2 separate regions of the Homo sapiens genome follow, and region 1 is linked to region 2. Evidence: fine-mapped expression QTL. A gene starts in region 2. The other region holds a variant in brackets. All regions are shown on one strand. Distances are from middle to middle.

Region 1 (16,024 bases), 55 kb before region 2:
ATCAATTTAGAAAGGACACCGTAAGAACCCTTGGAAGTCTAGAGCCTGGTTTAAAGCAGGGTTTCTTAAGCTCAACTCTACTGACGTAGGGCTGGAGAATTCTTCCTTTGCAGCGGGGGGAAGCTGTCCTATGCATTGTAGGATGCTTGGCAACCATCCCTGGCCCCTATCCCCTCGATGCCATGAGCATTCTCTCCCAAAGTTGCGATAACAACTGTCTCCGACATTGCCAAGCCAAGGAAGGGGTCTGCGCCATCCCCGGCTGACAGCGCTGATGGGCGCGTGCCCCTCCTTCAGGAGCCCCGATGCCTGTGGCTCTCAACTATTAAATCAAGTTCCAGCAAAGAACTGGAAACCTTTAAGCTGTGTATGGAACCATTGTGTGTAGCACTGGAAACTGTCCCTTTTCTAAGTCACTGTAAATGGTGTTTTTTTTTGGAGACAGGGTCTGGCTCTGTCTCCCAGGCTGGAGTGCAGTGCTACAATCAGGGCTCCCTGCAGCCCTGACCTCCTCAGGTGCAAGCGATAAAGGTTCCTCGTGATCAGCTGGAAGGTACTTTTGAATTAAAGGTTCACACTGAAGAACCTAAGTGGATAGTGGCATTTGAGGCCAGCAGTGAAAGTGTTTCCTCTCAAAGAGTTCCCTACACAGCAGCAGACATGGTTATTCTGAGAGTCATGTATGTTCTGTGTTTCTCTGTGAACCATGTTTCAGTCTTTGTTTCTGTCATCATATGTACGGGAAATTCCATAGAGACTACATCACACAAAACTGACATTGTCAATTACCAGGAAATACAGGTGCTCACCTTTTGAAGGCTTATTCATACATATGGTTGCCACAATACGTATATATGATAAACAGTGTATGTATACATACAAGTTGTTTAGGCCAGGCACGGTGGCTCACACCTGTAATCCCAGCACTTTGGGAGGCTGAGGCGGGCAGATCATGAGGTCAGGAGTTCAACACCAGCCTGACCAACATGGTGAAACCCTGTCTCTACTAAAAATACAAAAAAAATTAGCCGGGTGTGGTGGCGCACCTGTAATCCCAGCTACTCAGGAGGCTGAGGCAAGAGAATCGCTTGAACCCGGGAGGCGGAGGTTGGTCTCAGTAAGCCAAGATTGCGCCACTGCACTCCAGCCTGGGTGACAGAGCAAGACTCTGTCTCAAAATATATATATATATATACAGTTGTCACAATATGTATATGATAAACGGTGTACATATACACATAAAATGTTTATGGTGGATCTAGCTCCCCCCTAAAAAAGAAGCCCAGATACTGAAAGACACTCGAATTTTCCTAAAGACTTGAGGGTGGGCTCGACCTTAGGGTCTGGATGCTGAGTTTTATGTAAATATCTACCTGTGGGGCGGGGTGCCATGGCTCATGCCTGTAATCTCAGCACTTTGGGAGACTGAGGCAGGTAGATCACCCGAGGTCAAGAGTTCGAGACCAGCCTGGCCAACATGGTGAAACCCCGTCTCTACTAAAAATACAAAAAAATTAGCGGGGCATGGTGGTGGGTGCCTGTAATCGCAGCTACTCGGGAGGCTGAGGCAGGAGAATTGCTTGAACAGAGGAGGCGGAGGTTGCAGTGAGCCGAGATCGTGCCATTGTACTCCAGCCTGGGCAACAAGAGAGAAGCTCCGTCTCAAAAACAAACAAACAAACAAAAACAAACTACACATGTGGCTATCTGTGTTTAGCAAACTAGGAAAATCTTTGTTTTATTTTATATTTTACTTTTTTTTTTTTTGAGACGAAGTCTCGCTCTCATCCACCAGGCTGGAGTGCTTCCCAAACTGCTGGGATTAAAGGCGTGAGCCACCACACCTGGCCAAACTAGGAAAATCGTAAGAATGGCTCAGTGGGGATTTTTTTGTTCCTTTGTTTTGGTATAATTATCCTCATTTTTTTTCCAAATCTTCAAGCAGGGTTTCTCAAATTTTGGTACTATTGACATTTGGGGCCAGGTAATTCTTGGGGGCAGTGGGGAGATGCTGCCCTGGGCACCGGAGGATGTCCAGCAATATCGTCTACCTACTAGTAGCCAGCAGCACCGCACCAAGCTGTGACAACCAAAAAGGTCCCAGACATTGTCAATGTCCCCTGGAGGACAGAACTGGCCCTGTTTTACAGGAAGATAAATGTCCCCTAATCCTTTTGTGTAAAAGGGGGAATGTTTTTTACCCTTAGACCGGATAAGCAAGACCAGCTGAGACCTACTGGTATAAAGCATACTGCCTGCTCACATGGTGAGAACTCAATAAATGTTTGTATCACTACGTAATGAGAGATCCCGAGAGATGTCACTTTCCAACAGGCACAGCAGAGGGTGAAAGAGTTGTTATTAGACTAAAAACAAAAAAAGAGACACAAATAGTCGGATACGTCCAGATAACAGCTGAGATGTCAGAGGGAACCATGGCAATGATCACAGAAGAGCATGGAACGCAGCCAGGGTGACTTCTAAGAGCACGACTCAGGACAGAATTGACCAGGAGGCCAAGACGACAGCCCCGAGGGTGGGCTGTGGCCATTGTGCTTTGGGACTAGGCCTCGGGATGTGGAAATAGGCAATCCTAAGCCCAGCTAACACCACACTGTCCTTTCCAGGCTTCAAGGCGCCATTCACAGATCTGAACGCAGGTCATCCTGCTTCCCTTGAGAGAGACAAAGTCCTGGTGGCCGGCACAAGAGGCCTGGTTCATTCCTCTAAAGAGGGTGTCAGCTCAGGACAATATGGGCACAGGCCCTGATCGCTGGGAGTGGGGGTGGTGGCTTCCAGAGACCTGTCTATAGCAGGGAACAAAGTGGCCCAGGAATTCCTCCAAGACCTCTGAGGACATCTTTCCTGCTAGGGAGCAGTACTCTATGGTGCTCTAACCAAGCAGGTGAAGGTCTGACGCCTGCTGGGCAAGGTCTAACCCAGGGCCAGGCCATCTGATTTCAAAGTGCTGGGGCAAGGGGGTGGGACTGTTCTCAGTGACAACTCTAAAATTCGTCTGGATTAAATCTTTCTCCAGGGTTTAACCATCATCTGGGGTGTAGAGATAGACCCTAAGTATCTATATCCCTAAACAACCACTAGGGTTGTTACTTTTTTTATTTATTTTTTGAGACAGGGTCTCACTTTGCTGCCCAGGCTGAAGTGCAGTGGCACGATCATAGTTCACTGCAGCCTTGAACTGCTGGGCTCAAGTGGTCCTCCTGCCTCAGCCTCCCAAGTAGCTGGGACTGCAGGTGCACATCACCACACCTGGCTAACTTTTTCATATTTTGTAGAGATGGGATCTCCCTATATCGCCCAGGCTGGTCTTGAACTCCTGAACTCAAGGGAACCCCTGCCTCAGCCTTCAAAGTGCTGGGATTACAGGCATGAGCCACAGCACCTGGCAGGGTCCTTACTTTTTTCTTTCCAGGGGCAAAGGTACCTGCTGGGTGTTACTGGGGACTCGTTTCTCTTTGCTCCCACTGGGCATCTCCGAACTGTGGGCAGAGAACCCTGTTTGCCACCTTGGCCCAAGCATTTGCTAAGATCATTGCTCATTCCTCGGTGGACTCTATCTACACAAATTCCACACAACCTCACCCTGCAGTACACGGACCAATAGGATTCAACAATCTGAGGCTTCTTGTCTTTTTTTTTTTTTCAAGACGGAGTCTCGCTCTGTCACCCAGGCTGGAGTGCAGTGGTGCAATCTCGGCTCACTGCAACCTCTGCCTGCCGGATTCAAGAGATTCTCCTGTCTCACCCTCCTTAGTAGCTGGGGTTACAGGCAAAAATACAAAATTTTTGTATTGTTAGTAGAGATGGGGTTTTGCCATGTTGCCCAGGCTGCTCTCAAACTCCTGGCTTCAAGTGATCCGCCCGCCTCGGCCTCCCAAACTGCTGGGATTCCAGGCATGAGCCACCGCGCCCGGCCAAATTTGAGGCTTCTTGCATTCGAAATTGCAAAGTGAAAATTTTAAATGTGCCCAGTTTTCTGGAGAGTGGATCCACAGCTTTCACCAGATTCATGAGCAGTGGGCCCTGGAGTTTCCAAAAAAAACCCTTTATCTGTCCATATCAAATGCACTTAGGCTGGGATGCAGCATTCTACTTCTGGGAATTCATCCTATAAAACTAATCCCACTGGTGAGCAAAGATATTCACTGGCTATTTATTGTAGTAATGGTAACAGAAAATTCCGGTAAACAATAGAGATATCTATCAACTGACAACTGGTTAAATAAATTATGGTATATGTCATGGAATGAAATACAATGTACCCATTAAAAAGAGCCAAGTAGGCCAGGCAGGTGGCTTACGTCGATAATCCCAGCATGTTGGGAAGCCGAAGCAGGCGGATTACTTGAGGCCAGGAGTTCGAGACCACCCTGGGGCACATGGAGAAACCCTGTCTCTGCTAAAATTACAAAAAGTAGCCGGGCGTGGTGGCGCATGCCTGTAGTCCCAGCTACTGGGGAGGCTGAGGCAGGAGAATTGCTTGAACACAGGAGGCGGAGCTTGCAGTGAGCCGAGATTGCACCACTGCCCTCCAGCTGGGGCGACAGAGCATGACTCCCTCTCAAAAAAAAAAAAAAAAAAAAAAATCCAAGAAGTGTGGAGTATGGTCTAGAGCAGTAGTCCTGGGGGACAGGAAAGGAAGGGAGGAAGGAAAGAAGAGAAGGGAGGGAGGGAGAGAGGCAAGGAGGGAGGGAGGAAGGAAGGAAAGAAGGAAGGAAGGAACGAAGGGAGGGAAGGAGGACTGATTCTAAGGGGACACACGGTGATGTCTCAAGATATTTTTGGTTGTCACGACTTGGGGGTGCTCCTGGCCCGGAGTGGGTGGAGGCCAGGGGCGCTGCTCAGCACCCCGCAGTGCCCAGGACGGCCCCACCACGGAGAACAATCCAGCCCCAGATGTCAACAGTGCCGACGGAGGGGGAGAAATCCCGCTCCAGTGTGATCTCCAAGCAATGAAAAACACAGCACACAGGATTCTGTGGCATATGCTATCACAGGGTACGTGTTTTTAAAGGAAAGGCACACACGTATCTTAGGAAAGGGACATACGGAGTCGATGACAGTCGCTTGTCTCTGGGGAGAAGGGCTGGCTGCCCGAGGAGCAGAGAGGGGAAACTGACTTCTTCCTCTACCTTTTCAACTTTGTACCTTGCCCATCCAGAGGATTTTGAACGTAACTGCTCTAGACGCAACTTTTCCCTGGCTCTGGGTTATCTGGCAAGAGTCCTGTGTCGACAGCCTCGGGACTCCTCTCTTCCCCTTCTCTCCCCGCACCCCGCCTTTGCAGCGGAGAGAAGGAGGGGAGAGGTCCGCGTCCCTGGGCAGCCCAGGGTGCCTCTCCCCTCCTCCCAGGGGCTCTGTCCCCGCTTCTGGAGCCCGCATGGCGGGCAGGGCCTGGGCCACCTCGTCGCCCCCGTCCGTCCCTTGGTCTTCCCACCTGGCAGGGGACACGCGCCAACGTCCCCACCTCGGTCCCCCCGGCCCCCTCCCGGGCCAGGTCGGGCCTGGCTCCCTCATCCGGGCAGCCCGGGGCCCGGTACTCGGCTCCCGCCTGGGCCTGCGCTCACCTGGCTCGCCTTGTAGAACTGCTTCTTCAGCCCCGCCACCGACATGCTGCCGCCCGCCGCCGAGCCTCCCGCCCGGACCGCGCCAGCGACAGGCTCCCGGGCGCCGCCGACCCTCTGCGCGCCTCAGCAGTCCCCGTCGGCGCCGCCTCCGCCACCCGCTTGCCAGCTCCGCGCCCGCCCCGGCGCCGCCTCAGCCGCTCGCGCGCCCGCGCGGCCAGGATATTACATGGCAACCGCACGCTTCCGGTGCCGGCCCCCGCGCGCGCCCCCGGCCCCCGCGCGCGCCCCCGGCCCCGTCTGCGCACGCGCGCCCTCTGCCGGCTGAAGAGCGCACGTGCACATTGTCTACCGCGGGAGAGGCCGCCTCTGTCAGTGAGTTGAGCGGGGCGAGCCTAGAGGGGCCGTAGCAGTTGCAGCGCCCCCTGGAGTCGTGGAGGTGACCCTAACGTCTTGGAAAACGCGCTTAGTTTAAACCTGGCCAGGGAGGTTGGGAAGTAGAAGGGGCCCCTGCTTACGATTCTTCAGATTCCTGTTTACTCATCTTAGCTAAATCCAGTTCGTCTAAGTGTTCAGCCCCCTCCCATTTTTATTTATTTATTTATTTTTTTTTTGAGACGGAGTCTTGCTTTGTCTCCCAGGCTGGAGTGCAGTGGCGTGATCTCGGCTCACTGCAACCTCCGCCTCCCGGGTTCAAGCGATTCTCCTGCCTCAGCCTCCCAAGTAGCTGAGATTACAGGCGCGCACCACCATGCTAGGCTAATTTTTGTATTTTTAGTAGAGACAGTGTTTCGCCATGTTGGCCAGGCTGGTCTCGAACTCCTGACCTCAGGTGATCCAACCCCCAACCCCCCCACCAAATCCAGCCTCCCAAAGTACTGGTCTCACAGGTATGAGCCACCGTGCCCGGCCACCTCTCTTCCTCTCTCTCTCTGTCCTGTGTTCATCCATTCAGTTGCCCACGTGACACATCTAGACATCTAGGTCTGTCTTCATGCCTTGACCATACTTTCCACCAGTCCTCCCCTCCAATTCTTCCTTGTCATGGCAGCCAGAAAGATGCTTCTAGAATGCAATTCAGGGCCAGGGGCGGTGGCTCACGCCTGTAATCCCAGCACTTTGGGAGGCCTAGGTGGGCGGATCACGAGGTCAGGAGATTGAGACCATCCTGGCTAACACGGTGAAACCCTGTCTCTACTAAAAAATAGAAAAAATTAGCCGGACGTGGTGGCGGGCGCCTGTGGTCCCAGCTACTAGGGACTCCGTCTCAAGAAAAAAGAAAGAAAGAAAGGAAGGAAGGAAGGAAGGAAGGAAGGAAGGAAGGAAGAAAGAAAGAAAGAAAACCTGTTTCTACACTCACAGGCTGACACTGAAGTTCTCTGTTTTGTGTGAGGCTTTTAATCTGCTTGATCTACACAGTTCAATCAAATATTTATACATTCACTCAAACATTTATTGACCTGGTAAATATGATCAGTTACTAACAGGTCCTGGGGTTCCAGTGAGGAATGAGTCCTACCCTCGCCAGAACTAATGACAAAAGGCAGAAATTAATTCATTAGTCAAATAACAAACTAATAAATAGACACAGCTGTAATTGCTTTAAGGAAAAGAACAGTGTTGTAGGCACTTGATATTGTCAGGGTTGGGGAAGAAAAGGCTTCCTGGGGTGACGATCTAAGATCTGAAAAGTATAAATTAGCCAGGAAAAGAGCTGCGAAAAGATTGTTCTAGGCAGAGAAAACAGCATGTGCCAATTTCCTGAGGATTAAACCAGAAACGATCCATTTCGTCCATTTCGTTCACTCATTCTACATGTTATTTACTGAATGTCAAATACTTCCGAAGCGCTCCCCAGACTTCGTTTTATTGTTCTTGTAGAAAGCAATTTATAATTTTAATTGCTGTTGCTATATTTAGCCGATGTCCCATTAGGATAAACTCAAAACTCCAGGTTCCTCATCTAAATCCCACTTTCAAGTTGTCATCTGCGCCTTGCGTAAAATGTTCTGGTGACGTAAGAGCCTGGGCCTCCCTCCTCTTAGGGACTATCCCACGCGATCAGCCAGTCGCAGCGCAGAGCAATGAGCTTGACACCTCCTTCCTCCAATCGCAGGGCAGCTCCTCCCAGCCAATGACAGGCCTCCGAGGGGAAGCCCAGTCCCTCGCGGATATGTCAATGGGCGAGCCCTGGGAGGAATGGAAGTCACGGATCTCGCGAGGATGCCCCCGGCGCCCCTCAATTCCCGAGGCGGGCCGTCACGTGACCCGGGCTCGCCCAATTGGCGCGCGGACTGCGGGGGTCGCCGCGGTTCCCGCCAAATACGAGCGCGGCGGCCGCGGCGGCAGCAGCGGCGCGGGCGGGAGGGCGAAGAGCAGCGGCCGCCTGAGGGGAGCCCGCGCCTCCGCCGCCTGAGAGGAGGTCGAGCTGCCGCCGGGGCGATGCTGGAGGAGCTGGAGTGCGGGGCGCCCGGCGCCAGGGGAGCCGCCACAGGTCGGTTCGGGCCCGCGCCGAGGGGAAGGGGGGGCGCGGCGCGCGGCCTGGACGGGCCGAGGCGGCGATGGGAGGCGGACGGGCCTCCGGGCGCCAAGCCTGGTCCTGCGGGCCGGGCGTTCACCCCCTGGGGCCTTCTCATCCCCAGCGAGGGCCTGGCGTCCCCAAGGGCACCCTTGTTGACGTTATTGTTGTAGCCGCGACC[A/G]TATTGTTTGTTTCCGGCGCTTTTGCGTCAGTTCGTCCCTCCAGGACTCTCTGGGGCGGTGGGTCGGAGGGGCCGAGAGGGGAAACTGAGGCCCAGGGAAGCGAAAGGGCTTGCCCTGCAGGTTACTGGATGCGTTTGTGTCCCTTGACCATGTTGGACCTTGCAGCGGGTGGGGAAACTGAGGCCCAAGGTCGCACGGGCTCGGGGACCAGTACCGATGCCGCTGAGGGTCGGGGTAAGCCCGGGTAAGAAGAGGCCCAGATGGTAGAGATGGCCAGGAGGGTGGGACTCCCGAGTTCTTGCTCCTTCCTGATATGCACCGTGACTTCCTCCTCCGTGTGCCTTGGAATGGGGTCTTTGGAGCCCACCACAGGCCTCCTGAAACGTGGGAGGGTGAACCAAGGAAGACCAGACTGTCCCTCTCCCTTGCTGGACTCTGCATTACATAACGCTTTGGCAGCACTTGGCATTACGCTTTGGCACATAGTAGGTGCTCAGTAAATAACGTGAACGAATGAAGGGCTAGAATGGACGCCAGTCCAGTTTCTCAGCCTCAGCAGTGTTGATATTTGTTGCCGTCCTGGGCACGGCACTGCAGGGTGTTAAGCATCATCCCTGGCCTCCGCCTTTTGCAGGCCAGTAGCAGCCCCTCTCACCATGCCTTAGTAACAGCCAGAAATACCATTGCCCTGTGTCCCCTATGGGGCAGATTCCGCCTTGGCTGAAAATCATGGCTGTAGTTCCTTCTAGCCTGTGGGATTTCCCGGAGACATAAAATTAATATAAAGTTGGTACTGTCGTGGAGCTGTGATGTTTTAAGTCAGGATGTTTAACTTTATTTATTTATTTATTTTGAGACTGAGTCTTGCTCTGTTGCCCAACCTCTGCCTCTCTGGTTCAAGCGATTCTTCTGCCTCAGCCTCCCAAGTAGCTGGGATTACAGGCCTGCACCACCATGCCTGGCTAATTTTTGTATTTTTTAGTAGAGACGGGGTTTCACCATGTTGGGCAGGCTGGTCTCGAACTTCTGACCTCAGGTAATCCACCTGCATTGGCCTCCCAAAATGCTGGGATTACAGGCATGAGCCACCATGCCTGGCCAGGATATTTAACTTTAAAAAAAAAAATCGCTACTCGCTAGGACCATGCTATCATGAAAGGAAAGTATATTTTAGTGCCAAATAAAATTAGAAAGGATGTAATCGCAGAATAAAGAGCAGTTAGTAACTTTATACACACATATGTGTTAATCGTGTGTATCTTTGGATCTCTGGATTGGGAGTGTCCCGTTTTATATACAAGATTTTTTAATGAGGGTGGGTCCTGTTTTTAATGAGGTTGTTTCTGTTCCACTTGCACCAAAGCTAGTGACTCAAAGCCACACAAATAGATTTTTGTGATTGTCTCGAAAATAAAGTTAAGTGACTAAAAATCATATCCTTCAGTTAGGGGGTAGAAATCCATGGCTTTTGGTAAGTGGACACTTGAGAATGATACTGTCTTTATTTCTTTGAAGTGGCTAGAAAGGAAACATGAATTTTCTCAGTACCTTTTCTTATTCACTAAGCTTGGGGCGGTGGGTGAGGGGTGGTTTCATGTATGGACGATGGAGTTTTTTAGGAAGCCCCAGTCTGCTTTTAAAAAGTACTCACTTTTATGTAATGCTTACAAAACATACGTAGATTAACCAAAATAACTAAACTAGGTTTTGCCAAGCCAGATCTCCTGGTAAGTGTGAGCTTCCTAAACTTACTCTGTTTAAGGTATTTATCTAAAGACTCGCTTCTATTTATGATCACTGCTGCATCTGCTTTGATATTATTAGATGGTTTCTTGAGATTTTTTTTGCAGGAAAATATTTTGTCTTATCTTCTCTTGACAGCACTTCAGCTCCTGCCTGGCAAGCTCAAAGTGCTTTAAATTGTGGTACCTTCATGAATTCTCTTTAAAAAGAAAAGGATCCCTTTTCTGATTTTACAGATTTGGTGGTGGTATGGGGGCTTGGGTTGGAGGAAGATGTTTGGGGATCATGGGAATGAAATAGGTAATCTGATGTTTTCTCTCCTCCCTACTTTTACTCATTCCACTTTCATTTCATGAAACAGTTCCGGTTACTCTCTTAGTTGGCTTTCTGATTTATTCCAGACCCTAACCAGGTACCATAGGTGCAGCATGGAACAAGTCTTTCTGCTGTCATAGAGTTGGCATTTTGTTTCCAGAGAGACGTAATAAACACGAAAGTTTCAGATTAAATGCCACAAAGAAAATAAAACAAGACATGACAGTGTCTAGGGTAGGATTTCTCAACCTATTAACATTTTGAGGCCAAGCGCCGTGGCCAGCACTTTGGGAGGCTGAGGCGGGTGGATCACGAGGTCAGGAGTTCGAGACCATTCTGGCTAACATGGTGAAACCCCGTCTCTGCTAAAAATACAAAAATTAGCCGAGAGTGGTGGCATGCGCCTGTAGTCCCAGCTACTTGAGAGAGTGAGGCAGGAGAATCGCTTGAACCCAGGAGGCGGAGGTTGCAGTGAGCTGAGACTGTGCCATTGCACTCCAGCCTGGGCGACAGAGTGAGACTCTGTCTCCAAAAAAAAAAAAAAAATTTTTTTTTTTTGGCCCATATAATTCTTCATTGTGGTGTGCTGTGCATTGCATTGTGGGACATTTAGCAGAATCCCTGGCCTCTACCCACTGGATGTGAATAGCATCCCTTTGAGCCCTCCCTGCATCATGACAACCAAAAACATCTCTAGACTGTGTCAAATGGCCCCCGAGGACAGAGGGGTCAGAATTGCCTCCACCTTGTACATAATTGGCTCTACATATGTATTTGCTAACTTGATTATTTGCAGAATTTAACAGTTTACCCTTTGACACTTTTATTTGCAGCCATGGATTGCAAAGATAGACCAGCTTTTCCAGTTAAGAAGTTAATACAAGGTAATTATTTGGAAATGGGTTAAAGAGTTGTTCGTAGTTTATAGTCTTCCTTGTCTCTTGTTGGAGACCTCAGTGGAAGCCTGGAGCTAGAGGGGAGAGAAACAGTCCTTCTTCAGACCAGGAAGCTGGGAAAATGCTTTTCACACAGTAATGTCTCGTGGGGTTCCCACAAGTAAACCCCGAGGCCTCCACTTATGCACGATTGGTGTTTTGTAACTTGCAGCTGGGAGCTCTCCTGTATGTTGTAGGGAGCGTAGCAGCATCCCTGGCCTCTTCCCACCGGATGCCAGTAAGTGCATCCTCCAAGTCGTAACAACCAAAAATATCTCTATACGTGGCTGATGTCCCCTGGGAGGTAGAACTGCCCCCTCAGAGAACCACTGTTGTCCTGGAAGATAAATGCTCCCAAATCCTTCTGCATAAAACGGGGAGTGTGTTCACCCTTGGGCCAGATGAGCGGTTGGATTGTAATTTTTTTTTTTTTTTTTTTGAGACGGAGTCTCATTCTGTTGCCCAGGCTGGAGTGCAGTGGTGCGATCTCTGCTCACTGCAACCTCCGCCTCCTGGGTTCAAGCAATTCTCCTCCTTCAGCCTCCCAAGTAGCTGGGATTACAGGCGCGTGCCACCACACCCAGCTAATTTTTCTATTTTTAGTAGAGATGGGGTTTTACCATGTTGGCCGGGATGGTCTCGATCTCCTGACCTTGTGATCCCCCTGCCTCAGCCTTTCAAAGTGCTGGGATTACAGGTGTGAGCCACCGCACCCGGCCCAGATTGTATTTTTAGAAACTACAGTTTTGGGTTTTTCAAACTTGGGCTGGGTGCAGTGTTGCATACCTGTAAAACCAGCTATTTGAGAGGCTGGGGTGGGAGGAGTGCTTGAGTCCAGGAGTTCAAGGCTGCGGTGAATTATAATGACACCACTGCTCTTCAGCCTGGATGACAGAGGAAGACTCTGTCTCTTGAAAAAAAGGGGGACGCCAGATGCTAGGCTCACACCTGTAATCCTAGCACTTTGGGAAGCTAAGGTGGGCGGATTGTCTGAGCTCAGGAGTTTGAAACCAGCCTGGCCAACATGGTGAAACCCCGTCTCTACTAAAATACAAAATAGCTGGGCATGGTAGGGGGCACCTGTAGTCCCAGCTACTCAGGAGGCCGAGGCAAGAGAATTGTTTGAACCCGGAAGGAAGAGGTTGCAGTGAGCCAAGGGTGCGCCACTGCACTCCAGCCTGGTGACAGAGCAAGACTCTGTCTCAAAACAAACAACTCCCCCCACACCCCCCCCAAAAAAAAACAGGTTTTTATTTGGTCTATTACATGATGAAATAGTTAATAAAAGATGCAATGGCATTGAAGTAAGTGAACATAGGTTCTTTGGGAAATTCACTCTCCAAAGTGTTTCTGTGTTCCTCCTAACCAGCCCGAAGCCTGGCAGACTCTGGGAGAACAGTTTGATTGATGAGAAAAGCCTAACAGAGCCTAGGGTGCTGAGGCCAGGAGAAAAAAAAAAAACCCTGTCCACAAATGTGTCTATATTTTCTACTTGAGAACCAGATGCAGTTATTATCAAATGAGATTTTCACCCATTAAAAATAAATTTGGAATATGAACTGCATCTGAAATAAACAAATGTCTCTTGAAATTCTGGCGATGGCTCTGCTAAAAGGCTTGTCAGGATTTTGTTTTTTAAGTTAGGATGTTGAAGCGGGGCATGGTGACTCACATCTGTAGTCCCAGCACCTTGGGAGGTGGAGGCGGGCAGATCACCTGAGGTCAGGAGTTTGAGACCAGCCTGGCCAACATGGCGAAACCCTGTCTCTACTAAAAATACAAAAATTAGCTGGGTGTAGTAGTGCATGCCTGTAATCCCAGCTACTTGAGAAGCTGAGGCAGGAGAATAGCTTGAACCCAGGAGGTGGAGGTTGCAGTGAGCTGAGGTGGCGCCATTGCACTCCAACATGGGTGACGAGCAAGACTGTCTCCAAAAGAAAAAAAAATAAGTAAAATTAGGATGTTAGAAAAGGATAGAATGAAAAGATAGCACCCCCCACCCCCTCTTTTTTTTTGAGACGAGGTCCCTTTTGCCCAGGCTGCAGAGTAGTTGCACCACCACAGCTCACTGCAGCCTCTACCTCCTGGGCTCAAGCGATCCTCCTGCCTCAGCCTCCCGAAGTGCTGGGATTATAGATGTAAGTCAGTGTACCTGGCTTCAGATAGCCCCTGCCCCGTCTTTTTTTTTTTTTTTTCTTTTGAGAGTTTCGCTCAGGTCGCCCAGGCTGGAGTGCAGTGGCGTGATCTCAGCTCACTGCAGGCTCCGCCCCCCGGGTTCACACCATTCTCCTGCCTCAGTCTCCCGAGTAGCTGGGAATGCAGGCGCCCGCCACCTCACCCGGCTAATTTTTTGTACTTTTAGTAGAGACGGGGTTTCACCGTGTTAGCCAGGATGGTCTCGATCTCCTGACCTTGTGATCCGCCTGCCTTGGCCTCCCGCACCCGGCCTTTTTTTTTTTTTTTTTTTTTTTTTTTTTTGAGAGGGAGTCTGTCTCTGTCGCCCAGGCTACAGTGCAGTGTTGGGATCTCAGCTCACTTCAACCTCTGCCTCCCAGGTTCAAGCGATTCTCCTACCTCAGCCTCCTCAGTAACTGGTATTACAGGCGTGTGCCACCATGGCCTGGCTAATTTTTGTAGTTTTAGAAAAGACGGGGTTTCACCATTTTGGTCTGGCTGGTCTCAAACTCCTGACCTTGTGATCTGCTTGCCTCGGCCTCCCCAAAGTGCTGGGATTACAGGCATGAGCCACCACACCCGGCCCAGATAGTCCCTTTTTAAACTTTAAAATTATCTCCCACCCCCATGTCCCAACAAATCAGTAATTTTCAAGCTCATGAGTGGTTGTAACTTTAAACGTTCACTAGAGATGGCTTTCTGTCTTTGTTTCAGCCCGTCTGCCGTTTAAGCGCCTGAATCTTGTCCCAAAGGGGAAAGCCGATGACATGTCAGACGATCAGGGTACTTCTGTGCAAAGTAAAAGCCCCGATTTAGAGGCCTCTTTGGACACCTTGGAAAACAACTGTCATGTGGGTTCTGACATAGACTTTAGACCGAAACTTGTCAACGGGAAGGGTCCCTTAGATAACTTTTTAAGAAATAGAATCGAAACCAGTATTGGCCAGAGCACAGTCATCATTGATTTGACAGAGGACTCGAATGAGCAGCCAGACAGTCTTGTGGACCACAATAAACTAAATTCTGAAGCCTCTCCCTCCAGGGAGGCAATAAATGGCCAGCGAGAAGACACTGGGGATCAGCAGGGGTTGTTGAAGGCCATTCAGAACGACAAGTTGGCATTTCCTGGAGAGACCCTTTCAGACATTCCTTGCAAAACAGAGGAGGAGGGTGTTGGCTGTGGAGGTGCAGGGAGGAGAGGCGACTCCCAGGAATGTTCGCCACGGAGCTGCCCGGAGCTGACGAGTGGCCCGAGAATGTGCCCCAGAAAGGAGCAGGACAGTTGGAGTGAAGCTGGGGGCATCCTGTTCAAAGGGAAGGTGCCTATGGTGGTCTTGCAGGACATCTTGGCTGTGAGACCACCGCAAATCAAGTCCCTTCCAGCCACACCCCAAGGCAAGAACATGACCCCTGAGAGTGAGGTGCTGGAATCTTTCCCCGAAGAAGACTCTGTACTCAGCCATTCGTCCCTGAGCTCTCCCTCTTCCACCAGCTCGCCCGAGGGGCCGCCTGCTCCCCCAAAGCAGCACAGCAGTACCAGTCCCTTCCCCACCTCCACGCCCCTCCGCAGAGTGAGTATCTCCCATGGAGTCCCTGCACATCAGTGCTCACGGATCTCAGAGCGCTGTCAGTCTCCACTGGGTCACCCAGGTGTTTTGTGGCAGAGTGAGCGGGGCCACGGGCTGGGTCCTGGGACTCGACGTGGAGTTCTTCCTGGTATCAAAACTCACAGTGTTCAGTTCTGCATTCGTTGTGATGCCCCTGGGACTTAATTCATCAACAGTGTACCTGGTGTACTGTGTGAATAACACCCTGCTGTTTTGCCTTCGTTGTTCACATCTAATCAGTGATAGCTTAGCCGTTTTAGGGAATTAGGATCTGAGCTGGTGCTGTAACCCCTCACTTCAGATTCGAGGTCCAGCTTTCTCTGTGCCCTTCCTGTCTAAGCATAGAAATGTAGGGACGGGGCTGCAAAGACACTGAGCACTGAAGTGGCAGTGAGACGGCAGGAAGCATGACTTGGGGAATTCTGTAGGGTCAGCACAGCCAGCCATCTTAAAAACCTTACCTGGGGCCAGGCACAGTGGCTCATGCCTGTCATCCCAGCACTTTGAGAGGCCGAGGTGGGAGGATCGCTTGAAGATCACTTCAAAACCAACCTGGGCAACATAGACACCATCTCTATGAAAAAAAATTACTTTTTTTTTTTTTTTTGACAGAGTCACTCTATCACCCAGGCTGGAGTTCAGTGGCGTGATCTCGGCTCACTGCAACCTCCACCTCCCAGGTTCAAGCGATTCTCCTGCCTCAGCATCCCTGATAGCTGGGATTACAGGTGCGCACCACCACACTTGGCTAATTTTTATATTTTTAGTAGAGACAGGGTTTCACTATCTTGGCCAGGCTGGTCTTGAATTTCTGACCTCAAGTAATCTGCCCGTCTTGGCCTCCCAAAGTGCTGGAATTATAGGCATGAGCCACTGCACCCAGCCCTGCAAAAAAATTTTTAAAAGTTATCCAGGCATGGTGGCACATGCCTGTAGTCCCAGCCACCTGGGAAACTGAGGCAGG
Region 2 (16,024 bases):
TCCAGCTGGATCAAAGCTTCAACCATGGAAACAAGCAAGCAGTCAAGGAGAAGCCAGAAGAAAAGCTCTGGAGGCCGGGCACGGTGGCTCATGCCTGGAATCCCAGCACTTTGGGAGGCCGAGGCGGTCGGATCACGAGATTAGGAGAGCGAGACCATCCCGGCCAACATGGTGAAACCTCATCTCTAAAATACAAAAGTTAGCCCGGGTGTGGTGGCGTGCACCTGTAGTCCCAGCTACTTGGGAGGCTGAGGCAGGTGAATTGCTTGAACCCGGGAAGCAGAGGTTGCAGTGAGCTGAGATTGCACCACTGCACTCCAGCCTGGTGACAGCAAGACTCTGTCTCAAAAAAAAAAAAAAAAAAAGCACTGGAGAGGCCACAAAAGAATTCTCTCAGCATGGAAATGGGGAAGGCATTTCTAAGAATGACCCCAAACCCAAAAGCCATGAACTAAAACTGACACATTTAATTATACAGAGATCAAAAAATCCTACACAGCAAAGTGACCATAAGCAGAGCCAACATAGAAGCAACTAGAGGGAAACATGTGCAACTCATATCATAGGCAAAAGCCTAAATTGCCTAATATGTAAAGAGTGCTGCCGGGCACGGTGGCTCCCGCCTGTAATCCCAGCACTTTGGGAGGCCGAGGCGGGCGGATCACGAGGTCAGGAGATCGAGACCATCCTGGCTAACATGGTGAAACCCCGTCTCTACTAAAAATACAAAGAATCAGCTGGGCGTGGTGGCGGTTCGCCTGTGGTCCCAGCTACTCGGGAGGCTGAGGCAGGAGAATGGTGTGAACCTCGTAGGCGGAGCTTGCAGTGAGCAGAGATGGCGCCACTGCACTCCAGCCTGGGCGACAGAGCGAGACTCTGTCTCAAAAAAAAAAAAAAAAAAAAAAAAAAAAGAGTGCCTACAAATCACTAATAAAAAGACAAACTATCTACTAAATAATGTAGAAAGGACGCATTCTCATATGAAACATGGCCAATCCAAAATAAGGAAAGTGCAAATTAACTCTATCCTGAGATGTTATTTTCACCTACCAACAGGCGTAAAGATCAAAGTTTGGTGATTTACAGTATGGTGAGAGGATGGGGACACGGGTGCTTTTGCACACACTGCTGGAGTGGGTGTGAGTCTGGAGAGTCTATGGAACTATTACTATTTTGTTTTGTTTTGTTTTTAAGATGAAGTTTCGCTCTTGTCACCCAGTGTCCACGCTGGAGCTCAATGGCGTGATCTGGGCTCACTGCAACCTCCACCTCCCAGGTTCAAGCGATTCTCCTGCCTCAGTCTCCTGAGTAGCTGGGATTACAGGCGCCTGTCACCACGCCTGGCTAATTTTTGTATATTTAGTAGATAGGGGGTTTCACTATGTTGACCAGGCTGGTCTTGGAACTTCTGACCTCAGGTGATCCACCTGCCTCAGCCTCCCAAAGCACTGGAATTACAGGCAAGAGCCACCGCGCCCAGCCACTTACTATTTTCTGAGAAAGGGTCTCACTTGTCACCCAGGCTGGTGTGCAGTGGCATGATTACAGCTCACTGCAGCCTCTACCTCCCAGGCTGAAGCAATCCTCCCACCTCAGCCTTCTGAGTAGCAGGGACTGCAGGTGCACGCCACCATGCCCAGCTATTTTTTTTTGTTTTTGGCAGAGACAGGGTTTTGCCATGTTGCCCAGGCTAAAGCCGAAGTTTCTGAGAACCTATTGATGGTGTTAAGTGAGGACTTGCTGTATTGGAAAAAAATGCTGTGGACGTTTTTATTTTTTGAGATGGAGTTTTGCTCTTGTTGCCCAGGTTGGAGTGCAATGGCGCTATCTCGGCTCACCACAACCTCTGCCTCCTGGATTCAAGCAATTCTCTTGCCTCAGCCTCCCGAGTAGCTGGGATTACAGGCATGTGCCACCATGCCTGGCTAATTTTGTAGGAAGTTCTTTCTGTATTGAAGCAAATAATACTTAACCTTTTATGAAAAACAACCAGGCCACGCGTGGTGGCTCACGTCTGTAATCCTAGCACTTTGGGAGGCTGAGGCGGGTTGATCACTTGAGGCAAAAGTTCGAGACCAGCCTGGCCAACATGGTGAAACCCCATCTCTACTAAAAATACAAAAATTAGCCAGGCATGGTGGCAGGTGCCTGTAATCCCAGCTACTTGAGAGGCTGAGGCACGAGAATCGTTTGAATCCAGGAGGCGGAGGTTGTAGTGAGCCGAGAATGCGCCACTGCACTCCAGCCTGGGTGTCAGAGTGAGACTCCATCTCAAAAAAAAAAAAAAAGACACCTAGTTGGGAGAGAGGAGATACAGATGCATACACAATGGTGTGCCTGGATTTGGGGTATCAGAGGAGGGGCTTCACTACTAGCAGTGGCCTCTGGGGACTCTGGGAGGGATCTGTACCACCTGGGCTTCCGATGGAGGGTGGCTCAGGCACAGGAAGCTACAGGTTGGGGCAGGAGCACACAGGGTGCCACTCACCAAGAGAATGGCCTCCTTGATGCAGGCGTCCCGCTGGTCCTTCCTCAGGGTGGCCCCAGTGAGCGGACAGGTGAAGTACACGCCAGGCACAGCCAGGTGGGCAGAGCCTTCCTCTCTGGGCTCAGATACCTGGGGCGGTGAAAGCGTCCAAGTCTGGACCGTGGACAGAGGCCACCCCGACCCTCGCCGAGCACCACAGTCCTGAGTGTGGCCCGTAGAACCAGACATCTCCAGCCCCCATGCTGTCCCTTCCACCTGGTGGCCGTGGGAGACACCCTGGCCAAGTGACCGGATCCCCGAGTCTTTTCCCTGGTATGTCAAATGTCCCTGTGGGGCCTGCTCAGAACTAAACGAGGTAAGGAACGGAAAGTACGGAGCAGCTTCTGACACGCAGGAAACACCCAGCAGATGGCAGCTGGGTTCCTGCTGGTCCTGTCCCCAAGCTGTTGAGGAAGGAGCTCTGTGTGGGTGTCTGCGGGCACAGTGCGCTGGACAAGGCATGACTTCTGGGCCTCCATTTCTAGGCCATCTCTAAGGTCCCTGCGTGCTAAAATTCACTGAATCCTCGAGGGTCAAGCTGCTTAGAACTCCTTTCAGCGGAGCTCTGAAGGCCCACCTCCTAGAGGAAGGCCTCCCTGATTCCACCCGTCTCCACAGAGCCTCTTGACCTCCAAGGCAGGCAGGACTGGGCAGTGCTAGGGGACAGGCTCTGAAACCACAGACTGGCTCTGGTCCTGCCTTTGCTGGTCCTGGGGTGTAGGAGAGAGGACAGCTGGTTTCACCTCTCTCAACCCCGGTTCTCTTTTTGAATAGTGGAAACTGTAACTGCATCTGCCCTTAAGGGGTTAAGGGGAGGGAGCGATGGGCTCGTGTACCTGAGGCCCACTTCTCCAGGCCTGAGCCGGCATCCTCAGCTGCCGAGCCCCGAAGGTCCCAGACAACACCGTGTTCCACCACAACCTGTGTCCACCTTGCAAGGCAAGGTTTTCCAACAGCCCTTGAGCCCCAAGGGCAGAGGCCACATCTCCCCCGTGACACAGTCAAGCTGTCCCCACCCCTTGGCATGGGACAGTGCCACCAGTGGCTGTTCTTACCACGTTGGTCCCTGGGGCCTCGGGGCTCCCGCTGACGGTGGCTTCGGCTTGAAGTTCCTTTCTCACTGGAAGGCAGCCCAAGAAAGAGAGGCAGAGACGGGATAGTGAGCACGCCGCTGTCCTGGCCCAAGCCCCCTCATTCCCGGGGTGGGCCTGGGGGCCACGCACACCGCCCCAGCCTGCTTCTGCTGGAGGTCAGGCTGGAGGTCCCCTGCAGGACTTGCTGTGCAGCCACCCCTCAGCCTGAGCAAGCACCCCACTGCCTGGGCAGCCCGTTTCTGCTCCAAGTCTCTGCTCCCACCCCCTCCCCAGGAAGCTGCCCTTCCCCCAGCACCTGCCCTTGATGAGCCGCTCCCAAGGGTGACCCTCACACCCCCACGGTTGCTCATGTGACTTCTGCATCCAGGGCCAGGCACCAGGGCCGAGAACCTCAAACAGCCCCAACCTGGGCCCGAGGAGGGCCATATCTCACCCTGGTTTCGGATGGTGTCCTGCGATGTGGGGCCCCAGGCCCGGGACTGCTTCTGCTCCAGCCGGGCTAGGGCGGCAGCGGCTGCCATCTGTGCCTCATTGGTGGGTCCCTGGCGGGGCGGCCTGGGGGCTGGCTGGTTGGGCTTCTCTTTGTGGGCCTTTTCCCTGGGAACAGACCGAGGGAGAGTGAGTGTATCCTCCCGAGGTGGCCGGCAAAGCTGACGTGCAGTCACACAGAGGAGCTTCTGCCCCTCCCCAGCACCATCAGCCAGACGTGTCCCTGCCTATGTGGGCCAGGACACCTGGTTCCCAGGGGCCACCTGCAGCCACCAGATGGTTCTACTGCAGGCGGAAGAGCCCCTGGAGGAAGGAGATGCTGGTTCCACTCAGCTCTGCACCATCGGGCAAGTCCTGCCCCCACTGGCCCTCAGCGTCCTCATCTGTAAAATGGGGTGACAGCACCCCTCCTGAGGTGAAGGCACCTTGACATCCTCAGTGCTTTTTTTCTTTTTGAGACAGGGTCTTGCTCTCTCACCAAGGCTGGAGTATAGTGGCACGATCATGGCTTACTGCAATCCTGAGCTCCCAGGCTCAAGGAATCCTCCCGCCTCAGCCTCCCAAGTCGCTGGGACTTAGAGGCAAGCATCATCATGCCTGGCTAATTTTTCTATCGAGACAGGGTCTCGCTATGTAGCTCAGGCTGGTCTCGAACTTTTGCCTCAAATGATCCTCCCACCGTGGCCTCCCAAACTGCTGGGATTATAGGCATGAGCCACAGCACCCAGCCCGCATCCTCAGGAATTGAGGAGACTCAAGGGGTGTCACATCCTCCCTCCCTCCCTGCCATAAGACTCTCCACCCTCAGGTCACAGCTTCGTTTGCTGAGCACCTACTGTGTGCCAGGACCCTGCTGGGAGCTGGTCGGCTCGCTTGGTTTACTCCTCCTAACAAGCTGCCAGGGAGGCCTCACCATCCCATTCCTAAACCCAAGAGGGACAGGAAGTCCGGGCGATGTGCCCCATGCCACGCCACCCTCGTGGCGGGACCCTGGGGAGAGCGGACAGCAGAACCAGCCTCGCCCTGGCCACTCCATGCCAGGCCTAGGGCTGTGCAAGTACGAAGAGCTCATGGACTCGTGGCTCCACCCTGTTGAGCCCTACACCAAGGAGAGTTCCGTAACCCACGTGGCACAGTGACCTGGCAGAGAAGCCTCGCAGAGAAGCCCTTTCTCCCAACCTGCTCGGACGCGTCTGTCTCACCCGTCTCCTCTCAGGCCCCTCCCATGAACTTACGGGCTGTGTCAATTTCTGTGCCGTAGGTCTATTAAAACCTTCTGGGAGGCCAGGCTCTCAGTTCAAGCCCTATACTCCTCTGGCTCTGCTTACATACCCGGGCAGCCCTCCCTCCTCGTCCCACCCCTGCCTATCTAGTCCTCCCACAGCTGAGCATCTTGGGTGGAAGAGGAGATGACTCATGAAGACCCACCCCGGCCTCATCCGATATCTGGGTCTTTCCAACAAAATGCCATTTCCCAGGGCACCTCACCCCAACCAGCCATGGACCCTGCCCCCCTGGGCAGCCACAGGGACCCTTCTGGAACCTCAGCCAGGGAGCGTCAGCATCACTCCACTGCACAACGCCCTCCCACTGCAAAATCCTAAAGCTTCCCTTGGCCAGAGAGCCCTTCCCAGCCTGGCCCACTGCCCTCCCGTGGCCTGTCTCCCCTGGGCTCCCCGCAGTTCTTCCCACACCCCAGCTGCTCCCCACTGCAGGCCCCTGCACTGTCTGCACCTTCTGCCCAGAATGTTCTCCGGGGGAGTGGGAGGAGGATGGGGGTCTGGAAAGGGCTAGAGCTGCCGCAGGGAGAGAAGGAGGGGCAGATTTCCCCACAGCTGAGTCTCACTGTGTCCTGGGAGAGGCCTTCCCAAACCACCTGACGGCCCCTGCTCACCCTCCTTGGAGGCCCTGGGCACTCATCCAAGCACTCATCGCCTGAGCGCTCATCCAAGGTCTGTTGGTTTATTTGTCCATCGGCTCCCTCTAGAAGGTGAGCCCTGGGACAGCAGAGGCCTTCTCCTGTCCACCACTGCAGCCTAAAACAGGACTTGGTGCCCACCCACCCCACACACCCTGGATATGCAGTCTCGCTCCACAAGGGACCTCCGCACCGCTTCCTTTCCCAACCTTCCCCTCCAACCTTCCCCTCTCCGCCCAGGCTCTGGGCTGATCCAGCCATCACCCCGATACCCTGCATCCTTCCTATCATGCCCAGTCCCAGTGGCCCCAGCACCCCCCACCCACTATTGGTTGAATCAATGAAGGGCTCCCCCGATTTGCCCCCTTCTCTCCCTGACCCCTCTCCCTCCCTCACTCAGCCTTTGCTCTCCTGCTCTCCCCCAGGAACCCTGACGTCCTCACTATGCCCCTACCTCCATCACCACCCCACTGCCCCGTGATTCCTGACCCCCACTTCCTGCCACCTCCCTGCCTCTCCCAGCCCCCACTCCCTCACAATCCCTTCCACTATTGCTTACAGACCCGTGTCCTGGCTGCCTGGCTGACTTCCTCAGTCCCTCTCCATCAGTCCCCACCACCCTCTGGCCAGCCAGCTCCCTGCAGCGGCCCCAGCTCTCCAGTTTCCCTTTTCTCAACCCAACAGCCCTCAGCCTTGCACCTTCCCTAGCTCCACTTCTTCCCCGGCCCTCCCAGCTGGCTCAGCCCTGCTCAGGCCCTTCTCTCCAAGTCCTCCCTAGACAATCCGGAAGCCTGCCCGGCATCTATCTCCTTTCCCCTCCTCTCCCACTTCCATAATCCACTTGGCACAGTGACGTGGCAGAGAAGCCTCGCAGAGAAGCTCTTTCTCCCAGCCTGCTAAGACGCGTCTGTCTCACCCGTCTTCTCCTCTCAGGCCCCTCCCGGGTAAGAGTCCATCTGTCAGAATCCCTCACCTCCACTCTCCTCACACACCTTCCTCAGCCCCTCCCTCTCAATTCGCCAGGACATCCCAGGTCACTGACGACGCTGCCCACCCCGGCCTCCCTGGCCTTCCAGACTCTTTCTAGTCTCCCATCAGCCTCCCACGTGCTCCAGATACCAAATCCAGAACCCCTCTTCCCATGGATACCTCAAAACAACTCTTCACCACCCCACCCCACAGCTGTGCGTCCTCCTCCAAGCTCAGCTCCCATCCATGGTCACCTAGATTGCCCCAAATCATCCCGGCCTCTTCGGCCAGCCGGGTCCCCAGACAGAGCTCTCCCTCACCACCCGGCTCAGGACTCATGATCCCGTTTTTCCCCAAAGGTCGTTCCACTGACCCCCAACTGCCTACAGCCCCGTCGCCCTAATCCCCCGCCACTGCATCGGACCCTCCTGCGGCCCCGCCCCCGAGACCTCCCCTCCCGCCCCGCCCCCTGCGCTAGTTCCCCTCCCCTCGCCTCCCCCGCCGCGCCCCCGGGTCATACCCGCCCCCTCCTGCCCCGCCCCCAGATCTCTCTCCCCTCCCCCTGACGCCCACCCTCGGCCCGACTTCGTCCGCCCCCGGCGCCTCTCCCCCTCCCCTGACCCTCGCGTGCCGCTCCCAGCCCCTCATCCTCTCCGATCTCCCGAGCCGCCCAAGGCCCCAGATCTCTCTCCCCGGCCGTCCCCGCCCCGCAGGGCCTCAAGCCCCTGCGTTCCTCACGCACCCCACGGACTCTTTGAGCTTCTGACCGGGTCCCGCGCTCTTGAACTTGATGTCGGCCTTGAACTCCTGAAAGAATTTCTTCATGGTGGCGGCTGGCCCGGCGGCGGGGGGCCGCGGGGGCGGGGGGGCACGGGGCCCAGTCGGGGACGGGGCCGCCGGAGACCAGCCACCGGAAGAAAATTAAAAAAAAAAAAAAAAAAAAAAAAAAAATTTACCTCGCCGCCGGAAGTCCCGCCTTCCCCTGGCCTGCCACGTGACAATCGACTAGACGTGCCTCTCTAGCGCTCGGTGCCTTGCTGGCCCAGGGCGGCCGCTCTGTACGCTGGAGCCGCGTCTCTGTGGTTCTTCCGGACTCCGTTGCCAGGGCGACGAGTGCACCTCTCGATTGGAGACAGGGCATTCCGTGGCGCTCCCCAAACGGTGACAAACGGTGATAGGACAGGGACAGGCCAACTGAACCTCGCAGAGAAAGCACTGGGCCCTATCCCTTTCGCTGCTCAACCTAAACTAGGCGCGGTGGCTCACGCCTGCAATCACAGCACTTTGGAGGCTCAAGCGGAAGGATTGCTTGATCCCAGAAGTTGGAGACCAGCCTGGCAACATGGCAAAACCTCGTCTCTATAAAAAAAAAAAAAATAAAATAAAATAAATTAGCCGAGGGTGGTGGCGCGCGCCTCTCAGCTACTTGGGAGGCAGAGGCGGGAGGATCGCTTGAACCCAAGAGGTCGAGGCTGCAGTGAGCTGTGATCAAGCCACTGCATTCCAGCCTGGGCGACAGAGAGAGACCCTGTCTCAAGCAAAACAAAAAAAATTCCAACCTTCTCTGTCTCCCCAGAGCTTACGTGATAAAATCCCAATTCAATGTTGGGTATTGGAGGCCCCCACGATCTGGCCTGTTTTGGTGCCTGAAGCACCCCCCCGCCACCATCACCACGTACCCTAGGTAGGAGCTGTTTAAGAGGATGCACCTGGGCCGGGCGCGGTGGCTCATGCCTGTAATCCCAGCACTTTGGGAGGCCGAAGCGGGCGGATCACAAGGTCAGGAGATCGAGACCATCCTGGCTAACACGGTGATACCCCGTCTCTACTAAAAATACAAAAAATTAGCCGGGCATGGTGGCAGGCGTCTGTACTCACAGCTACTCGGGAGGCTGAGGCAGGAGAATGGCGTGAACCCGCGAGGCGGAGCTTGCAGTGAGCCGAGATCTCACCACTGCACTCCAGCCTGGGCGACAGAGCGAGACTCCGTCTCAAAAAAAAAAAAAAAAAAAAAAAAAGAGGATGCACCCAATGCACCCAATTGGGACCTGGGGATTGGGGATCCACTTTGGTGGACACCAGTTAATAGTGGCGTACTTTGGTCTGTGCAATCCACAAAGAAGATACACAAAGTGACAGTTAAAACAAGCCTCAAAAAATGGGAGTTGGGGGTCAGACGTGGTGGCTCATGCCTCTAATCCCAGCACTTTGGGAGGCCGAGGCCGGCGGATCACTTGAGGTCAGGAGTTTGAGACCAGCCTGGCCAACATGGTGAAAGCCTGTCTCTATGGGCACCGGTAATCCCAGCTACTCGGGAGGCTGAGGCAGGAGAATCGCTTGAACCCGGCAGGTGGAGGTTGCAGTGAGCCGAGATCTCGCCATTGCACTTCAGCCTGGGCAACAGAGGGAGACTCTGCCTCAAAAAAGAAGGAGTTGGAATGAGATACACAGAGACTGATGGAGGAGAAGCCTCCAGGTGAGGAAACAGCCCACCCCAAGACTGAAATTGAAATATCATGGGTTGGACGGGTGGCTCAGGCCTGCAGTCCCAACATTTTGGGAGGCCAAGGTGGGAGGATTGCTTTAGCCCAGGAATTGGAGGCTGCAGTAAGCTAGGATCACGCCACTGCACTCCAGCCTGGGCAACAGAGCCAGACCCTGTCTTATTAAAAAAAGAAAAAAAGGCCAGGCACGGTGGCTCATGCCTGTAATCCCAGCCCTTTGGAAGGCCGAGGCGGGTGGATCACGAGGTCAGGAGATTGAGACCATCCCGGCTAATACGGTGAAACCCTGTCTTTACTGAAAATAATTTTTAAAAAAATTAGCCAGCCTTGGTGGCGGGCGCCTGTAGTCCCAGCTACTTGGGAGGCTGAGGCAGGAGAATGGCGTGAACCCAGGAGGCAGAGCTTACAGTGAGCCGAGATCATGCCACTGTGCTCCAGCCTGGGCAACAGAGCAAGACTCCGTTTCAAAAAAAAAAAAAAAAGGAAAAGAATTGGGCCAGGTGCGGTGGCTCACACCTGTAATCCCAGCACTTTGGGAGGTCAAGGCGGGTGGATCACTTAAGGTCAGAAGTTCAAGACCGACCTGGCCAACATAGCAAAACCCCGTCTCTATTAAAAATACAAAAATCAGCCGGGTGTGGTGGTGTGTGCCAGTAATCCCAGCTACTTGAGAAGCTGAGGCAGCAGAATCACTTGAACGCAGGAGACAGAGGTTGCAGTGAGCTGAGATTGCACCACTGCACTCCAGCCTGGGCGACAGAGCGAGACTCTGTCTCAAAAATAAATAAATAAAGTAAAAAAATAAATAAATAAAAGAAGAATACAGTGCAACCCAAACTTCAATCTTTCTGATCTCCAGTCTCCTATCTATGAAATGGGGATAAGAATAACACTCTCTATAGATTGTAGGGGTGATCATGTGATTAGAAAGTTCTCAGTATGCCGGGCACGGTGGCTCATGCCTGTAATCCCAGCTACTCAGGAGGCTAAGGCAGGAGAATCACCTGAACTTGGGAAGCAGAGGTTGCAGTGAGCCGAGACTGCGCCACTGCAATCCAGCTTGGCAACAGAGCAAGACTCCGTCTCAAAAAGAAAAGAAAAGAAAATTACAGCTCATTGTTGTGAATAAGGAATTGTATACCCTATAACTCAAATAAAGGTACAACACTGGGCCAAAGTCACACAGCTGGAAAGTGGCAGAGACCCATCCCACTTCTCCAAGAATAAAATCCTATGGGGTTCCTCAGCCTGGTCTAAGGAGATCCTAACATTAATAGGCCCTAATAAATTTCTATTTCAGGTTCTAAGTATTCTGAGGGTTTCAGAAACCCCGTTTCTTGTTATCACCCACCTTTCCACCTCTGCCTCAGTTACCTGGAAGTATTTCCAGCTCACCTCTGGGCCTTTGCCTAGGCATTCTCCTTTACCAGAAGGGACTTCTCTTCCTCTGCCTAACTCAATCCTCTTCCACCATGACGCTCTCCTGGACTATCTTCCTCATGTCGGATGAGGTTATGAGATTAAATAATTTAACATTTCTGCCAGGAGCGGTCGGTGGCTCACACCAGTAATTCCAGCACTTTGGGAGGACAACATTTATTTTTCTTTTCTTTTCTTTTCTTTTTTTTTTTTTTGAGATGGAGTCTCGCTCTGTTGCCCAGGCTGCAGTGCAGTGGCACAATCTTGGCTCACTGCAAGCTCCACCTCCCAGGTTCACACCATTCTCCTGCCTCAGCCTCCCGACTAGCTGGGACTACAGGCGCCCGCCACCACACCCGGCTAATTTTTTGTATTTTTAGTAGAGACGGGGTTTCACCGTGTTAGCCAAGATGGTCTCGATCTCCTGACCCCGTGATCCGCCCGCCTCGGCCTCCCAAAGTGCTGGGATTACAGGCATGAGCCACCATGCCCAGCTTTCTTTTTTTTTTTAGACAGGGTCTTACTCTCTTCCCCACGCTGGAGTGCAGTGGCACAATCATGGCTCACTGCAGCCTAGAACTTCTGAGCTCAAGCAGTCCTCCCCACTCAGCTTCCCAAGAAGCTGGGACTGCAGGCATGTGCCACCACACTCAGCTAATTTTTTTTTTTTTTTTTTTTTTGAGAAGGAATTTCGCTCTTGTTGCCCAGGCTGTAGTGCAATGGTGCGATCTCGGCTCACCACAACCTCCATCTCTCGGATTCTCCTGCCTCAGCCTCCCGAGTAGTTGAGATTACAGGCACCCGCCACCATGCCTGGCTACTTTTTTGTATTTTTAGTAGACACAGGGTTTCTCCATGTTGGTCAGGCTGGTCTTGAACTCCTGACCTCAGGTGATCCGCCTGTTTCAGCCTCCCAAAGTGCTGGGATTACAGGCGTGAGCCACTGCACCCGGCCTCCGGGTAATTTTTTAAAAATTGTTCAATCTTGCGCAGTGGCTCACGCCTGTAATCCCAGAACACTGGGGGGCCGAGGGAGGAGGATTGCTTGAGCCCTGATGTTCAAGACCAGGATGGGTAACATAGTGAGACCTTGTTTCTACTAAAAAATAAAAATAACAGGCCAGGCACAGTGGCTCACCCCTATAATCCCAGTACTTTGGGAGTCTGAGGTGGGTGGATCACAAGGTCAGGAGTTCAAGACCAGCCTGGCCAACATGATGAAACCTTGTCTCTGCTAAAAATAAAATACAAAAATTAGCTAGGGGTGGTGGCAGCACCTGTAATCCCAGCTACTCAGGAGGCTGAGGCAGAGAATCGCTTGAACCCGGGAGGCAGAGGTCACAGTGAGCCAAGATCATGCCACTGCACTCCAGCCTGGGCAACAGAGCAAGCCTCCATCTCAAAAAATAATAATAATAATAAATAAAATAAAAATAACACCCTGGGCAACATGGCGAACCCTTGTCTCTACCAAAAAAAAAAAAAAAAAAAATCAGTGCTGGTTGTGCCTCCCTGTAATCCCAGCTACTTGGGAGGCTGAGGCATGAGAATTGCTTGAACCTGGGAGGCAGAGGTTGCAGTGAGCTGAGATCATGCCACTGCATTCTGGTTTGTGAGACTCTGTCTCAAAAAACAAACAAACCAAAAATTAGTGAGGCATGGTGGTGCGCACCTGCAGCTTCAGCTGCTTGGGAGGCTGAGGCAGGAGGAGATCGAGACCATCCTGGCTAACATGGTGTAACCCCGTCTCTACTAAAAATACAAAAAATTAGCCAGGTGTGGTGGTGGGTGCCTGTAGTCCCAGCTACTTGGGAGGCTGAGGCAGGAGAATAGCGTGAACCTGGGAGGTGGCGCTTGCAGTGAGCTGAGATCGCGCCACTGCACTCCAGCTTGGGCGACAGAGCAAGACTCCGTCTCAAAACAAAAAACAAAAAACAAACAAACAAACAAAAAACCATTAAAAGATAAACTCGGCCGGGCGTGGTGGCTCACACCTGTAATCCCAGCACTTTGGGAGGCCAAGGTGGGCGGATCACGAGGTCAGGAGATTGAGACCATCCTGGCTAACATGGTGAAACCCCATCTCTACTAAAAATACAAAAAATTAGCCGGGCGTGGTGGTGGGCGCCTGTAGTCCCAGCTACTCGGGAGGCTGAGGCAGGAGAATGGCGTGAACCCGTGAGGCAGAGCTTGCAGTGAGCCGAGATCCTGCCACTGCACTCCAGCCTGGGTGACAGAGTGAGACTCTGTCTCAAAAAAAAAAAAAAAAAAGATAAACTCAAAGTAAACAAATAACTGTTTAAATTTTAAAAATGAAATATGTATTATACTGATGGGGTCTCGCTAGGTTGCCCAGGCTGGTATAGATCTCCTGGTCTCAAGTGATCCCCCTCAACCTCCCAAATCACCAGGATTAGTGGTGTTAACCACCTCGCCCAGCGTTTGATTGTAAAGCTGTTGGAACTTTAAATTATTCTTCTTATTATTATTTTTGAGACGGAGTTTTTGCTCTTGTCACCCAGGCTGGAGTGCAATGGTGTGATCTCAGCTCATTGCAACCTCTGCCTCCTGGGTTCAAGCGATTCCCCTGCCTCAGCCTCCTCAGTAGCTGGGATTACAGGCACACGCCACCACGCCCGGCTAATTTTTGTATTTTTAGTAGAGACAAGGTCTCACCATGTTGGCCAGGCTGGTCTTGAACTCCTGACCTCGTGATCCACCCACCTTGGTCTCCCAAAGTGCTGGGATTACAGGTGTGAGCCACCGTGCCTGGCCCAAAAATTTTTTATACAGATGTGGTCTTCCTATGTTGCCCATGCTGGAGCACAACTACAGTGGCCATTCACAGGCACAATCATGGGTCACTGCAGCCCAGAACTCCCAGGCTCAAGTGATCCTCCCACCTCAGCCTCCCAAGTAGCCGGGACTACAGGCATGAGTCACTGCACCTAGCTTAACCATTGCAACCTCCGCCTCCTGGGTTTAAGTGATTCTCTTGCCTCAGCCTCCCGAGTAGCTAGGATTACAGCCACCACGCCCAGCTAATATTTGCATTTTTAGCAGAGACAGGGTTTTACCATCTTGGCCAGGCTGGTCTAGAACTCCTGACCTCCTGATCCACCTGCCTTGGCCTCCCAAAGTGCTGGGATTGCAGGTGTGAGCCACCGCGCCCCGCAATTTTTTTTTTTTTTTTTTTTTTTTAGAAAGAGTCTTGCTCTGTCACCCAGGCTGGAGTGTAGTGGTGCAATCTCAGCTCACTGCATGCTCTACCTCCCGGGTTCACGCCATTCTCCTGCCTCAGCCTCCCGAGTAGCTGGGACTACAGATGTCCACCACCACGTCCGGCTAATTTTTTTTGTATTTTTAGTAGAGATGGGGTTTCACTATGTTAGCCAGGATGTTCTCGATCTCCCGACCTCGTGATCCGCCGGCCTCGGCCTCCCAAAGTGCTGGGATTACAGGTGTGAGCCACCGTGCCCAGCCATTAACCACTTTTACGTGTACAGTTCGGTGGCCTCAAGTACATTCGCATTGTTGTGCAACCATTACAGCAATCGTTACATTTCATCTAGTGAAACGTAAATTCTGCCTAATTAAGTAATAACTACCCCCAACCCTGATAACCTCTAGTCTACTTTTCGTCTCTATGAATTTGACAACCCTAGGGACCTCTTATGAGTGGATACATATAAGACAGTACTTGTCTTTTTACGTCTGGCTGATTTCACTGAGGATATCGTCTTAAGGTTGCAGCCTGTGTAACAAATAGTTTTTAAACGATACTGCAGGCCGGGCACGGTGGTTCATGCCTGTAATCCCAGCAATTTGGGAGGCCGAGGCTGGTGGATCACTTGAGGCCAGCAATTCGAGACCAGGCTGGCCAAGATGATGAAACCCCGACTCTACCAAAAATACAAAAATTTGCCAGGTGTGGTGGCACGTGCCTGTAATCCCAGCTACTCGGGAGGCTGAGGCAGGAGAAACCCTTGAACCCAGGAGGTTGAGATTGCAGTGAGCCAAGATTGTGTCACAGCACTCCAGCCTGGGTGACAGAGACTCCGTCTCAAAAAAAAAAAAAAAGGAAAAAAAAGATATTGCACCAGCCTTGGCAACATGGTGAAATCCCATCTCTACAAAAAAAAAAAAAAAAAAAAATTAGCCTGCCATAGTGGCACACACCTTTAGTCCCAGCCACTTGGGGGACTGAGGCAGGAAGATTCCTTGAGCTCAGGAGGTCAAGCCTGTAGTGAGCCAAGATTACACCACTGCACTCCAGTCTGGGTGACATAGTGAGACTGTTTCTCAAAAAAAAAAAAAAAAAAAAAAAAAAATTGCATGGGGCCGGGCAAGGTGGTTCATACCTGTAATCCCAGCACTTTGAGAGGTCGAGGCAGGAGGGCTGCCTGAGCTCAGGAGTTTGAGACCAGTCTGGGTAACAAAGTGGGATCCCATCTTTATAAGAAATTAAAAATTAACCAGGTGTGCTGGCACATATCTGTAGTCCAAGCTACTCAGGAGGCTGAGGCAGGGGGATCACTTGAGCCCGAAGTGTAGAGGCTGTAGTGAGCTGAGATCATGTCACTGCACTCCAGCCTGGTCAGGACAGCAAGATCCTATCTCAAAAAAAAAAAAATTCTTGGCCAGGCGCGGTGGCTCACGCCTGTAATCCAGCACTTTGGGAGGCCGAGGCAGGTGGATCATGAGGTCAGGAGATTGAGACCATCCAGAGAGGCCAACAGGGTGAAACCCCATCTCTACTAAAACACAAAAAATTAGCTGTGCTTGGTGGCGCACACTGTAGTCCCACCTACTCGGGAGGCTGAAGCACGGGAATCGCTTGAACCCAGGAGTGGAGGTTGCAATGAGCCAAAATCGCGCCACTGCACTCCAGCCTGGTAACAGAGCAAGACTCTGTCTCAAAAAAATAAATAAGCTGGGTGTGGTGGCTCACGCCTGTAATCCCAGCACGTTGGGAGGCCGAGGTGGGCAGATCACGAGGTCAGGAGTTCGAGACCATCCTGGCGAACACGGTGAAACCCCGACTCTACTAAAAATACAAAAAAAAAAAAAAATTAGCCAGGCGTGGTGCCTGTAGTCCCAGCTA

The links.
Region 1: its variant is fine-mapped to the expression of UBXN6 in prefrontal cortex (ROSMAP, PIP 0.95).

Annotation. Positions count from the first base shown.
Region 1 is chr19:4,394,736-4,410,759 of GRCh38, forward strand. SH3GL1 (SH3 domain containing GRB2 like 1, endophilin A2) reads right to left here and starts at 5,812. Exons shown (of 10, transcript NM_003025.4): 1 at 5,589-5,812. The coding sequence starts at 5,633. CHAF1A (chromatin assembly factor 1 subunit A) reads left to right here and starts at 7,905. Exons shown (of 15, transcript NM_005483.3): 1 at 7,905-8,079; 2 at 11,177-11,227; 3 at 14,168-15,024. The coding sequence starts at 8,028. RefSeq lists enhancers at 259-769, 5,173-6,002, 7,665-8,362, 8,363-9,058, 13,773-14,584 and 1 more and silencers at 5,291-5,340, 5,401-5,910, 7,873-8,152. The variant A/G (reference allele first, on the strand shown) is at 8,285.
Region 2 is chr19:4,449,876-4,465,899 of GRCh38, forward strand. UBXN6 (UBX domain protein 6) reads right to left here and starts at 7,919. Exons shown (of 11, transcript NM_025241.3): 1 at 7,740-7,919; 2 at 4,055-4,218; 3 at 3,583-3,647; 4 at 2,489-2,617. The coding sequence starts at 7,822. It also overlaps a transcript of CHAF1A not described here. RefSeq lists enhancers at 3,455-4,154, 7,981-8,180 and silencers at 7,721-7,790, 7,821-7,870.